2 linked regions of the Homo sapiens genome follow. The main gene of each other region encodes a partner of the protein of the gene in region 2 in a complex. Each region holds a gene or a part of one and is shown on either strand. Other genes may lie near its edges. The genes, in order: PPIH and SART1.

What was found.
Region 1: SART1 (region 2) and PPIH share a complex: the UniProt entries of both Homo sapiens proteins name them as parts of the U4/U6-U5 tri-snRNP complex.

Annotation. Positions count from the first base shown.
Region 1 is NC_000001.11:42,661,393-42,665,201, reverse strand, and holds part of PPIH (peptidyl-prolyl cis-trans isomerase H), read right to left. Parts: intron 340-3,809; coding exon 247-339; intron 1-246. UniProt on the Homo sapiens protein: PPIase that catalyzes the cis-trans isomerization of proline imidic peptide bonds in oligopeptides and may therefore assist protein folding. Participates in pre-mRNA splicing.
Region 2 is NC_000011.10:65,975,103-65,978,911, forward strand, and holds part of SART1 (U4/U6.U5 tri-snRNP-associated protein 1), read left to right. Parts: intron 1-1,276; coding exon of another isoform or gene 1,277-1,292; coding exon 1,293-1,466; intron 1,467-1,553; coding exon 1,554-1,664; intron 1,665-1,911; coding exon 1,912-1,999; intron 2,000-2,460; coding exon 2,461-2,551; intron 2,552-2,661; coding exon 2,662-2,797; intron 2,798-3,497; coding exon 3,498-3,587; intron 3,588-3,690; coding exon 3,691-3,809. UniProt on the Homo sapiens protein: Plays a role in mRNA splicing as a component of the U4/U6-U5 tri-snRNP, one of the building blocks of the spliceosome. May also bind to DNA.

The sequences.
Region 1 (3,809 bases), on a different chromosome or scaffold from region 2:
GAACTGCTGACCTCAGGTTATCCACCTGCCTCAGCCTCCCAAAGTGCTGGGATTACAGGCGTGAGCCAGCATACCTACTGGTTTTCTCAGTCAAACCAGACTAAGAAAGGAGGTGGTAAAGGTGAGTCCTGGGCCAAGCAAGAGAAGGAAAGCATTTGCTTCCATCCCAAGAGACAGCACTGGGCCTCAAGAGGGGCCCAGGAACCAGCTGGCTATAACCCAAAACCTTGATTGGACCTCACTTACCATGGAAAGCAGGCCTGGAGCTGAGTGTCTAAGTTTAAAATTTTCATCTGCAAATGGCCCCCGGTAAATACTGGCGACTCCAGTACCATCTCCCTGAGCAGAGAGAAGGGAAGTATTAGTGACTTGGAGTGTTGGGTCCCTGGAAACCGGAGGAAGAACACTGTCGCACCTAAAGCATGACATCTTTAAAGTCTACTCTTACTCTTGTTGGTCATCTTGGAAGCTGCACCTATTTGACCCCACCCTGCAATCAGATCAAGCCTTATATAAGGTACCTACAGCCCACAAAGACTGGCTGGAGCATTTTATAGACTGGATAAAAGAGGTCACAGCTGGGCCTCTAGAACGATCAATTAAGATGCAGACAAAGTAGGGAACAGCAACAAGGTGATCACATACTCAATCCTTGCCATTCCTGAAGACTCTCATGCCTTCAGTCACATAAAAGTACCCACTTAAGTGACTACCACCCCATTCCCCTAAACTATCTAAGAGGGTGGGTGAGCTCTTGGCAGTCTGTATGTACAACATGATACCACCCTCCTGGTCATAGTTGATTGATCTAGGGAAGGATGCCTAACTCACTCTGGGCCAACTAGAGTTCCTTCTCTGGGAATCTGGAGGTGGGATAGATGCTCTCTTTGAGGCTAAATTTGTAACATGTAAACCTGAAAGCTGGATGTGACTACCATTTGCAAGCTGGGCTAGAGAACAGAGAGAGAACACAACACAGATGTGTAGCGAGCACTAGAGAAACGGAGATAAAGAACTGCCTTGGTTCTCTATGGTTCTAGTTCCTAGTTCTATTTCTTCCTTTAGTTCCATGAAACACTCCCTTTATTATAAACTCCCAATTTCTGCTTAAACTAGCTTTATTTGCATTATCTCCTTGCTCTTCCAGCAACCTTGAGGAATAAGCATTATCATCTTCCCCATTTTTCATGTGAGGAAACTGAAGTCTGGGTAATAAAACAATTTGACCAAGGCCATATTTGCAGTGCCTTAAATAGAATCCCTGAGTTTTAAAGGCAATATTGAGGAGTGCCAAAAAGATCAAGCTCTCCTCGCCAGTTAGTAAAGAGAAAGAGTACATGGGAGAAAGGGAAAACACTGACCCAGTGAGGAATCAAGGGTCCCTTTTTGGAAAAGAACTACCATTAATATAAGCCAGAGAATAAAGAAAAACTGTCCAAATTCAAACCTTTGTTTGCCTAAATATTATAAAATAAAATCAAGTCTGTATATTAGAAAGACCTGGCCTGGTGTGGTGGCTCACACCTGTAATCCCATCACTTTGGGAGGCTGAGGCGGGTGGATCACCTGAAGTCAGGAGTTTGAGACCAGCCTGGCCAACATGGTGAGACCCCATCTCTACTAAAAATACAAAAATTAGCCACGTGTGGTGGTGGTACCTGTAATCCCAGCTACTCGGGAGGCTGAGGCACGAGAATCGCTTGAACCCACCCGGGAGGTGGAGGTTGCAGTAAGCCAAGATCGCACCACTGCACCCCAGCCTGGGCGACAGAGCGAGACTCCATCTAAAAAAAAAAAAGATCTGAATTTGAGTTCCAGATCTATCACTTAGAGCTGGGAAAGTCACTTCCAATCTGTGAGCCTCAATTTCCTCATCTATCAAGTGAGGATGAAATTACCTACTCTTTACAGTTATCATGAAGATTCAATTAGATAGTGTCTGTAAAAAGCACTGTACAAACAATATAGTACTATATAAATAATCAAATAAGCTAATATGTCATTAACTAACTACACATACATATTAATACAGAAGGAAGAGAGAAAACAAGTTCATCTCCAATTTCCCAGTGAACCTAAGGGACACATCAGTTACCGTGCCATTCTCCGTAATCACGTTATCTATAGCTCTCCAGAAACAATAGGGAAAATTACAAAATTAATAATTTGGAGCAAACAATAGAAAGCAACTTATCTTCAACTATAGTGAATTGATCAAATAACTTGTCTATTCATAATGAAATATTAGGTGGCTATTAGAAAGCATGTTTTAGAAGACATAACGACAAGGGAAAATATGGACAATTATGAAGTACAAAAAAAGTAAAACATATAGATTATTTTAAGTCTGTTAAAAATTATATAAACACACATATACATACTAAGGTAAGACTGACAACTGTAAACCAAAATGCCAATAGTATATTGTGAGGTGAGAATGAGGGTAATTCATTTGGTGATTTATTTTCTTCTTTGCACTTTTCTTTTGCAACCAAAATAATAAATACTATTAAAACCAAAAATAAATGAACAAACAAATATTCTTGGTCAAACTTTGGAAGGTCTCAAATTCTGATTTTTCTGACTCTTGCTCATTCCATTTTGCCTTCCCCAAGGAAGGTTCTAAGCAAGCTTTTTTTTTTTCCCTTTAGACAAGGTCTTGCTCTGTCGCCCAGGCTGGAGTGCAGTGGTATGAACATGGCTCACTGCAGCCTTGAATTGACCTCCTGGGCTCAAGGGATCCTCCTACCTCAGCCTACCAAGTACCTGGGACTACAGGCGCACACCACCAAAAATAAAAAAATAAAAAATAACTTTTCTTATTTTTGTAGAGACAGGGTCTTACTATGTTGCCAAGCTGTTCTCAAACTCCTGGGATCAAGCAATCCTCCCAGCATCCCAAGGTACTGGGATTACAGATGTGAGCCCTACCAGCAATTGCTTTTAACTCGGCCTTCAGACTGAGCAACTATTGTCTAACCCCAGAGTTATCGACAAGTGATCAGATGTGCCTGGGGCAAAGACTAGTAAAAAGCTATTCCTCTCCTTGTAAGGCAACAGGGAAGCCTAGGGGAAAAAAAAGGAAAGAAGGCAGAGGATAGCTTCTCAGCCCTTCTTACCAGCTAACAAACCCTACTACCATTATCTGTTTCCCGGGGCTGCAAACAAATGCCCACAGGAGCAGGCAACGTAAATAAGGGAAACAGTTGTGGAGACTGGTGAAATGGCAAAGATATGCCATGTCCAAAGGGACCAGTTCCTTGATTCCAACCAATTGTCACTGTCACTGCCACTGTGAGAAATGCAGGCCCAGCATACTTCCACTTTCCATTTTTTAAAGAGAAAAAAAAACTAGGATTTTTTTGTGCCATTTCACAGTTATACAACACCATGCAGATGAATCAAAACATAGGTAAAAACGTAATTCGGCCTAAAACCTGCCACTCTGCAACCCTGTATTGCATAGGAAAGGAAAGAGGTCTTAAAAACTCATGAGATTCAGACTAAATAAACACATAAAAGAGAACACATGTCTCCCAGATCCAAGAAAACAGCAACACAACTAACCAAATGATATTAATAAGAGTAAAGAAAGACCATTCAGAAGTGGGGGGTAAGGACAAAAGCAGGTTTAAGAAAGAAAAAATGTAGTTTATCCCACACCCTCCAAGGTTGGGGTGGGGAGGGAGGCTTCATATGGGGGACAAAAACAGTCTACTTACAAGAAAGCTATGGTTAGCAAAAAAGAACTATTTCACTGGGCTCTCTCAGTGAATAGAGCAAAATTCCTCCAGAACTATCTACCTCTC
Region 2 (3,809 bases):
TTTTTTTTTTTTTTTTTTGGAGACAGGGTATTGCTCTGTTGCCCAGGCTTGAGTGCAGTGGCAAGATCACGGCTCACCATAGCCTCGGCCTCCAGGCTCAAGCAATCCACCCACCCCAGCCTCCCAAGTAGCTGAGACTACAGGCATACACCACCATGCCTGGTTGATCTTTGTGTTTTTTGTAGAGACTGTGCTTCACCTTATTGTCCAGGCTGGTCTCGAACTCCTGGGCTCAAGTGATCCTCCAGCCTCGGCCTCCCAAAGTGCTAGGATTATAGATGTGAGCAACCACCCGGCCCCTGGAAGAATTTTTTTTTTTTTTTTTTTTCGAGACGGGGTTTCACTCTTGCCCACTCTTTTGAGTGCAGTGGTGTGATCTTGGCAGCCTTGATCTCCCAAGCTCAAGCAGTACTCCCACCTCAGCCTCCCCAGTAGCTGGGACTATGGGCGTGTGTGACCACAATGTCTAATTTTTATGTTTTTTGTAGAGATGGGATTTGGGTATGTTGCCCAGGCTGGTCTCGATCTCCGGAACTCAAGCAGTCCACCCGCCTCAGAAGATTTTTTTAAAAAAATGAATGTAATATAAAATGAAAGAGGGGTGCAGAAGTGGACATAGTGACTCGAACCTTCACTGAGGAGTGAGGACTTTGCTGTCTGGGCTGCAGGGTTGAGGGAGAAGTTTTTTAAAGAGGGGAGATGGTAATCATTGTGTGTGGCTGGGCATCTGCGACAGGAGGGAAAGCAGAGGGTGCTGGTGCCCGTGTGGGGGTCGCTGGATTCAGTGCTGGCAGCATGAGTGAGTTCTCTTCCCATGTCACGGAACCTGCTTTCTTGGTGAAGCAGGAAGCGAGAAGCTGGGCTGTGGGAAGTCAAAAGCGTGGGCCACCTCACCACCCTGCGGGTTCTAGAAGTGCTGTCTAGAGTCCTGAAACCGGAGTTTGTCGGGGGAGGGGCAGGTGGCAGGAGGGAGCCTGGAGGAAGGAGTTTGAGGCTGAGGTAGTGTGTGAGGGGCTTTGGAGGGGGATTGGCACAGGCCTGGTCAGGAAGGCCCTGTAGGATGTTGGGTATTCATTCAAAGGGCATCCAAACCCATTGATGGGTTTGGAGCAGAAGAGTGACCCCAGTGAAAGAGGTGCAGAGTGGAGTTAGGCGGCAGATAGCAGCTGGGCCTGCATGGGCTGTGGGCGTGGCCTGTCTGGCTGCTGCCAGGGAGGACCCTTAGGTTCCTGGGTCTCAATGGCATCACCCCAGAAACTGCTGGGTTTGCCCACAGCCGCTCCCTCCCCCAGGTGGTGGAGATTGTGAAGAAGCTGGAGTCTCGCCAGCGGGGCTGGGAGGAGGATGAGGATCCCGAGCGGAAGGGGGCCATCGTGTTCAACGCCACGTCCGAGTTCTGCCGCACCTTGGGGGAGATCCCCACCTACGGGCTGGCTGGCAATCGCGAGGAGCAGGAGGAGCTCATGGTGCGTCTGGGGCGGCCCCGCCCTCTGCTTCCCTCGGCTGGGTGGGCTGGCTGGGGCCTGGGCCGACCCTGGTCTTTTGTGCCCCAGGACTTTGAACGGGATGAGGAGCGCTCAGCCAACGGTGGCTCCGAATCTGACGGGGAGGAGAACATCGGCTGGAGCACGGTGAACCTGGACGAGGAGAAGCAGCAGCAGGATGTGAGGGCCGCGCCGCTGGGGGGTGGGCGTTTGGGGGTGCTCAAGCTGGAGATGAGCACCGGGCTCGGTGTCCAGAGCCTCAGCCTCCTCATCCAGAGTGGGCTCTGCAGACCTCCCAGGGCGATCTGAGGAGTAAATGAGGAAATTAAATGTTGTGGAGGGCTGGTGCCTGGCAGGTGGTGACCAGTGGGTGGGGCTGAGAAGAGCCGGTATGGCCTGCTAACCACCCCCGCCACGTGTCCCGTAGTTCTCTGCTTCCTCCACCACCATCCTGGACGAGGAACCGATCGTGAATAGGGGGCTGGCAGCTGCCCTGCTCCTGTGTCAGAACAAAGGTAGGGAGCTCAGGGCAGCCATGACTTGGGTGGGCTTGGGTGCTGCTGCAGGTGCAGGCAGGGCCCCCTCCGGTCCCCTCTGCTGCCCCTTTCTCTCAGTCCCAATGCTGGAGCCAGCTGTCCGGCCCAGAGCCACTCCTTCCCCTCCACTGTGGCATCTGTCCGTCTGCTCTGCCTTTGAGGCTCCACACCTGCTTGGGGAAGGAGAGGGGAGTTGAAACTGTTCCAGCTGTGGCACAGAGAGCCCTGGTGTTAGGACCCCAGCTCTGCCATTTCCCTGGCCAGTGACCCTTGGCAAGGGGCTCATTTCTGCATCTTTGCTTTGCCTGTAGAACAGGCCTGATGGCTTTCCAGAGGCAAGGAAAGGGAGGTGCCCCCACAGGGCCTGCTCTGCCTTCTCAGGCGGCCCTGGAGCTGTGGCTCTCGAGGGGTTGGGAGTCTCACAACCCCTCCATCCCTAGGGCTGCTGGAGACCACAGTGCAGAAGGTGGCCCGGGTGAAGGCCCCCAACAAGTCGCTGCCCTCAGCCGTGTACTGCATCGAGGATAAGATGTGAGTGTGGTGGGGCCTGTGCAGGGCTGAGGGGCCTGTGCCAGCTTGGAGCTTCGGGACCACAGCAGGCGGCAGCTCCTCACACTAAGGCCTCCTCTGTCTCGGGCCAGGGCCATCGATGACAAGTACAGCCGGAGGGAGGAATACCGAGGCTTCACACAGGACTTCAAGGAGAAGGACGGCTACAAACCCGACGTTAAGATCGAATACGTGGATGAGACGGGCCGGAAACTCACACCCAAGGAGGTGAGCAGGGCCTTTTGCAGGCGGAGGCCCGGCCTGCCACAGGGAGGCCAAGCCCAGGGCCATGCAATGCCCCGGGCCATGCAATGCCCCAGGGTCCTGGCTCCACCAGCCTCTGGCTGGGGGCCTGGTGAATGCCACGGATGGGGAGGGGGCCCTCAGGGCTGAGGAAGGCTGTGCCTCAGTTTGTCTCTAGTGGGCACAGCAGTCTCTTTGCAAGCCTGGCAGGAGGGTCAGACAGGCACTCGGGACCTCTGCCCTCCTGTCCTCACCTGCGTGAGCCCTTCACTGGCTTTCCTGGCCCGCAGGGCCATTCCAGCGTCCAGGCCCTTCCAGCACTCTCGTAGGCCGCCCGACCGTCCTGCCCTACCACTCAGCTGCCCCCTTGCTCTCTGGGGTTTGTCTCCCTGCAGCCCCAGCCCCAGCCCCAGCGTCCAGGCCCAGCCCCTGCGTGGCAGGTCTCCAGGTTCCCCATGCTCTGCCCCCATGGCAGCGCATCCACTAGCCAAGCTGGTCTCCCGGCCTCTGCTGGGGCCCTGCAGGGTGCCAGCGTCTGTGCTCTTTTCCCATCCCCTTCCCACTGCACCCCAGGCCTGGCATTGGGGTCAATCAACACCCGCCCTGTTATTATACACCTTGTGGGCACAGGTGGCTCCGGCCCCACCCAGGGCCCTGCATCTCCTCTCATGCCCCGCGTCCCCAGGCTTTCCGGCAGCTGTCGCACCGCTTCCATGGCAAGGGCTCAGGCAAGATGAAGACAGAGCGGCGGATGAAGAAGCTGGACGAGGAGGCGGTGGGTGCCCTTGGGGATGTGGGGGGCCCTGTGCCTGCCGGGGCAGGGGTGGCTGGTGTGTGGGGCCTGCTGCAGCCCTTTCTGAGTGGCCCCGACCCCTCAGCTCCTGAAGAAGATGAGCTCCAGCGACACGCCCCTGGGCACCGTGGCCCTGCTCCAGGAGAAGCAGAAGGCTCAGAAGACCCCCTACATCGTGCTCAGCGGCAGCGGCAAGAGCATGAA